Regions from separate parts of the Homo sapiens genome. Here region 2 is linked to region 1. Evidence: fine-mapped expression QTL. A gene starts in region 1. The other region holds a variant in brackets. All regions are shown on one strand. Distances are from middle to middle. Region 1 holds the start of CLDN15 (claudin 15). Region 2 overlaps PLOD3 (procollagen-lysine,2-oxoglutarate 5-dioxygenase 3).

Region 1 (2,771 bases):
CAGTGCCCCCCGACAGTGAGGCTGGGGAGTCTGTGGAGCCTGGAAGTTGATCAACCTCTAAGAATCCAAGATGGGGCCTCCTCCCCCTGCCCACCCCAGCAATCCCACCCCCAAAACATGCTCAACCGTACTGAGTGCCTATGTGTGTTAACATCACGCTAACATTCTGCACTTTCTCAGTCACCTGTGAACTGGGACTCTCACCCTAACCCTACAGGTGGGAGATGAAGCTGGTTTCATCATTTGCCCACAGCACAGGGCTGGGAAAGGGGGTCTGATTCTGGTGCCTGCACCTGTAACAGCTAAAAGCGCCACACTAGCGCAGGGGGCCACGTGTGGCAAGGTCTTCACTCCAGTTCTAGGCATGGGCCGCCCCCAGCACTCCTGGCTGCGGGAACTCAGACCCGCAGAGCTTAATTCAGGGCTCCCTGCATCCTCACGGAAGTACCCGCCCTCCCCTGGGGTCTCTGCAGCTTCCCCGCCGCCCTCTCTCCCTGGAGCGCTCCCCACCCCATACCAGAGAGGGCCAGCATGGACGGGAACTCCCAGCAGTTGTAGACGCCCAGGGAGTCGGTGGCACAGCTAAACCAGAGGTTCTCGAAGATGGTGTTGGTGGTGATGACGTTCCCGTGCACAGTGGACACTCGCCAGTAGCTGTTTGGCAGAGTCACCCCCAGCATCAGCAGCCCCACAGTTGCCATGAAGAAGCCAAAGGTTTCCACAGCCATCGACATGGTGGGATGCAGGACCCTGGGGGGCTGGTGCCCCAGAGAGGGGGAGGGGCAGAACCCCTAGGGAACTGGAAGGGGCTGCGGCTAAGGAGGGTTGTCCAGGCAGGCTGGGGTGGAATCAGCCTCAGCCTCTGCCTGCCTCTTCCTCGGGCTCAGGTCCGTCTCCACTTTCTGCCTCCCTCCTGCTCTGTGGGTCTCTCTGCTTCCTGGCAGGTCAGAGGAATGAGCTAAGCCTGCGCGCGGCAGCTGTTGACGAGATGGAGGGAATAACCGAAACGGGCCAAAAGTCCACCCCCTCCCCCCAGCCTCTGGGCTGCCCCGGGCTCCCCGCCCCACGAGGGTGGGGGGGGCAGACTTACCCTGGAGCCACTGACGGATACAGCCAAGGAGGGGCCCCCAAGGGAGGCACTGGGAACTGAGGGGAAGCGTCTGTCTCTGACTCAGCTTTCATTGGGGGCCAAAGAACGGAGTAAGAGGGACAAGGAGTGAAAAGATGACAGAGACAGACGTGAGAGCAATAAGGGACAGAGACGGAGAGAGAATGAACAGCAGCCTTCAGTGGTGAAGGACGGAGGAACCACGAGAACAATCTAAGATACTCAGACCAAGGGGTTGGGGCGTATGAGTCTCTTAAGGAAGATCAAGCTGGAATGAGGGGATGGGAGGGTAGGAGACCCACAGCTCTGGGCTCCATCCAGCCTGGAATGGAACTCGGCCCCACCATCCATTCACCAGGGAACTCAGGCGGGGAGTTTTAGTCCCCTGAGCTTCTGCTCTGTCAGTGACATACCCGACTGCTTACTGCAGGGGCTGTGGTGAGAACTGGGACCAGGGGCCGGGCGCAGTGGCTCTCGCCTGTAATCCTACCACTTTGGGAGGCTGGGCTGAGACGATTGCTTGAACTCAGGAGTTCAAGACCAGCCTGGGCAACACACTGAGACCTCGTTGGGACCAGGGAGTCAAGCCCCCCACACATAACCAGCGCTTGGCACCGGGAACTGTCCTGGATGTGAGTGTCACAGGGCTGAGGCCACCAGGGAGTCGCTCTCACCCAAAACTCAAATTTCCTCCTAAGTTGATCTTTGACTCAGCATCGAGCCTGGTCCTGCTGGCCAACAGCCTGGAGCGTGATCCTGTGGCTAAGCTCTGCAACCTGTTCCCAGTTATCAGGGACTGTCACCCACTCTATTCGTTAATGATGATGGATTAGCAGCCTCTGGTCCCCATCCCGAGCCAGTGCAGAGCACCTGTCCCAGAGCAGACACTCTCATCTCCTGCTCCGGTTCCCTAGGGCTCTGTCCCTGGGGGCCATCAGCGCTGGCTGCGCACCTCCCTGGCCCCACGGCCCTGCTGGGCTTCTCCGGCCTCCCCTCAGGTGTCTCCTCCCTACTCCTGTGCTGGCCTGGGCTGTGGAACGAGAGGTATGCGGTGAAGCAAAACAGGCCCATGCCGAGCCTGGCACGAGGGGGCGAAGCTGGCTAGGTGGGGCTGAGTCCTGACCTTCCAGCCCACAGGCGAGAGCTGGGGCTCCCTGGGCTCTGACCTCTCCCGGGACCCCCGCCTACTCCATGCCAGATGCAGGATTCCTTCCCCTACTGGGCTCCCCCTCCCCCAGAGGAGGAGGTAGGAGGAAGGGGAGGCCACAGGAAGACAAAGGGAGGGGAGGGTGGGGAGGAGGAAGCCAAGGGGGCCTGCTGTGGAAAACTCCACAGAAGTAGCTGAGTGGGTCAGAGGAGAATGCAGGCCTGAAGCCCGGCCTGGCCCCGAAGTTCTGCCCGCCCATGCTCAGGTCACTGCCTTCTCCCAGGACTCTGGGACCATGGAAAAGCCCCATGTCTCCGAGCTGCCCGGCACTCTCAAGGACATGGCTTCAGGAAAGGGAGGAAGGAAGGGTGTGGGCTCTGGGCTGCGGGGTGGACAAAGAACCCCGTGCCAACCTGGAGGGCAGGGGCAGGAGAGGACCAGGAGTGACGTCTCCGCCCCCTGTGCCCAGCGTTCAGAACCCACCCCTCCCCTCAACGCAGACACGGGGGTTCCCAA
Region 2 (2,794 bases), 28 kb before region 1:
CTTACCTCATGCCGGCCGCCTGACCACTGGCCGTAGTGCTCCATCTCTGCCACCAGCTCATCACACATTTGTTCTGACAGCAGTGGGAACCAGTACACGTCCGGGCATGGCTGAGGATGGGGCGAGGGAGAACAGGGCTAGCTGACGCCGCAGAACGGGGAAGGGGACAGGCAGCAGGCAGAATGGGAAGGGGCAGGGAGGAGCAGGGAAGGCTTTGTGAGAGCAGCCGGGGACCCGCCAGGTAGGGGCTGAGGGAGTGGCAAGGCTGAGGACCGGTTTCTGGCACAGGAGAGGTGGCAGAGGGTCCTGGAGCCCCTCGTGCTGGGACAGTGGTTTCCAAACTTCCGTAACAGTGCATACCTCTTTTTTTTTTTTTTGAGATAGGGTATTGCTCTGTCAACCAGGCTGGAGTGCAGTGGCACAATCATAGCTCACTACAGCCTCGACCTTCTGGGCTCAAGCGATCCTCCCGCCTCAGACTCCCAAGTAGCTGGAACTACAGGCACATGCCACCATGCCAAGCTAATTTTTTCTTTTCTTTTTTTTTTGAGACAGGGTCTCGCTGTGTCACCCAAGGTGGAGTGCAGTGGCGTGATCTTGGCTCACTGCAACCTCTGCCTCCCAGGTTCAAGCGATTCTCCCACCTCAGCCTCCCGAGTAGCTGGGACTACAGGTGCACGCCATCACACCTGACTAATTTTTGTGTTTTTTTTTTTTTTTTTTTTGGTAGAGACAGGATTTGCCATGTTGGCCAGGCTGGTCTCGAACTCCTGACCTCAGGTGATCTGCCTGCCTCGGCCTCTCAATGTACTGGGATTACAAGCATGAGCACCACTCCTGGCCTCATTTCTTATTTAATTTTTTTGTTGTTGTTGTAGAGACAGATTCTCGCTATGTTGCCCAGGCTGGTCTTGGACTTCTGGCCTCAACCGATCCACCCACCTTGGCCTCCCAAAGTGCTGGGATTACAGGCATGAGCCACTGAGCCCAGCCCCATTCTTCTTTTAAGATGTGATTTCAAGCATAACACCAGTATACCCAATATACAGGAGAAGAGGCTGTCTGATCAATGCTGGCTTTGGGGGCAAGAGTCCTTTCTGTTCGGCCTCTGCCTTCATCTTGTCTGAACAGAAAACCCTCAGATCTCTGGGGAACTCAGTGTGAAAACTTTGAATCCAGGCGGGGGCCCCCAAGAGGCGATGGCCATGAGGGCAGGGGGTGGGTGGGGAGGCTGCGTGGGCTCACCTGCTCCACGATTCCTTCCCCTTCCAGGGCCCGGCTGTAGTTCTCGTGGATGTACTGCTCCTTCCAGTCCTGTGAGAGGGTGGGGGGCACATCAGATCTGTGCCCCCCTCGCTCCCAGCCCCCAGGGGACCGCCCCCTCCCACTCAGTGTCCTGC[G/A]CTGGCAGCAGCCATCACGTTTGGTGTCTTCCTTAGCACAAGGCGGGGAACCTGTGTGCTCTGGGCGTGGGGTCCCCACTCACGACGGGGTTGTCGAAGATCTGCCAGAGGTCGGGGTGCAGGTGCTCCGTGTCGTATCTGGAAGTGGCCAGGAGCCGGCCAAATTCATGCTGATTGCTCAGATGGAGGAAGATGCCCTGTAGTGGGGTGGGGGTGTCCGTGATGCAGGCGATGCCTGGAGTCTGGGGGACTGCCCCCAGGCCAGACCGTGCACCCGCGCTCACCTTGTCTCGAAAGCTCTTACAGAAGGCCATGTCCGGGTCTGTGTCACTGCCCGAGAACACATCCCTCTGGGGCAGCTCCATCCGCAGGGTATCACCCCGGATCACATAGGCCTGGGAGATGTATGGTACATTCCACACACCCCTGGAGGCACCGACACCGCGGTCAGCTGGGAGGACAGCCCCCCAAATTCTGCCCAGCTCATCCCGGGAAGTCCTTCTTCCCTCAGGGTATCCCAGTCCCTGAACATAAGGCCCCTGCATGTCCCTTGTCAAGCACTGCTGGTCCCAACCACCCCACCTCCCAAAATGCGGTCAGTTCCTACCCCAAGCTGTGGCACTTCTTTTTTGTTTCTTGTTTTTGGTTTTTGAGACGGAGTCTTGCTCTGTCACCCAGGCTGGAATGCAGTGGTGTGATCTTGGCTCACTGCAACCTCCACCTCCCAGGTTCAAGCAATTCTCCCACCTTAGCCTCCCAAATAGCTGGGATTAGAGGTGCCAGCCACCATGCCCGGCTGATTTTTGTATTTTTGGTAGAGATGGGGTTTCACCATGTTGGCCAGGCTGGTCTCGAACTCCTGACCTCGAGTAATCCACCTGCCTCTGCCTTCCAAAGTGCTGGGATTACAGGCGTCAGCCACCGCGGCCGGCCCTTGTTTTTTATTTTCTTGAGAAAGGGTCTCCCTCTGTTTCCAGGCTGGAGTGCAGTGGTGGAAACATGGCTCACTGCAGCCTCAACCTCCCAAGTTCAAGTGATTCTCCCACCTCAGCCTCCGTAGTAGCTGGGACCACAGGCACGCACCACCGTGCCCAGCTAATATTTTAAGTTTTTTGTAGAGATAGGCTCTTGCTACGTTGCTCAGGCTGATCTTAAACTCCCAGGCTCAAGCAGTCCTCCTACCTCAGCCTCCCAAAGTGGTGGCATCAAAAGTGTGAGCCACTGCAGCCAGCCTCATGGCACCTCTGACTGGTGACCACTCCAAACCCCTGAGAGTAGGGGGCTTGGGTCTACCTGGGCCCCGGGTCGGAGGAGGCGGGGGGCTGCAGGCTGGCGGGACTCACACTCGCTTCCGCTGCACCAGCTCCACGTAGTCCTCGGAGCGGGCGTAGTAC

Evidence for each region. PIP is the estimated chance that this variant, and not a neighbour inherited with it, causes the effect.
Region 2: its variant is fine-mapped to the expression of CLDN15 in whole blood (TOPMed, PIP above 0.99).

Annotation. Positions count from the first base shown.
Region 1 is chr7:101,236,848-101,239,618 of GRCh38, forward strand. It overlaps CLDN15 (claudin 15), which reads right to left and starts at 955. Exons shown (of 5, transcript NM_014343.3): 1 at 518-955. The coding sequence starts at 734. It overlaps FIS1 (fission, mitochondrial 1), which reads right to left. Exons shown (of 5, transcript NM_016068.3): 5 at 2,625-2,771.
Region 2 is chr7:101,208,848-101,211,641 of GRCh38, forward strand. It overlaps PLOD3 (procollagen-lysine,2-oxoglutarate 5-dioxygenase 3), which reads right to left. Exons shown (of 19, transcript NM_001084.5): 12 at 2,744-2,794; 13 at 1,685-1,826; 14 at 1,484-1,597; 15 at 1,246-1,314; 16 at 6-110. Among named protein-coding and RNA genes, the nearest start is that of PLOD3, 7.3 kb to the right of the region's middle. The variant G/A (reference allele first, on the strand shown) is at 1,401.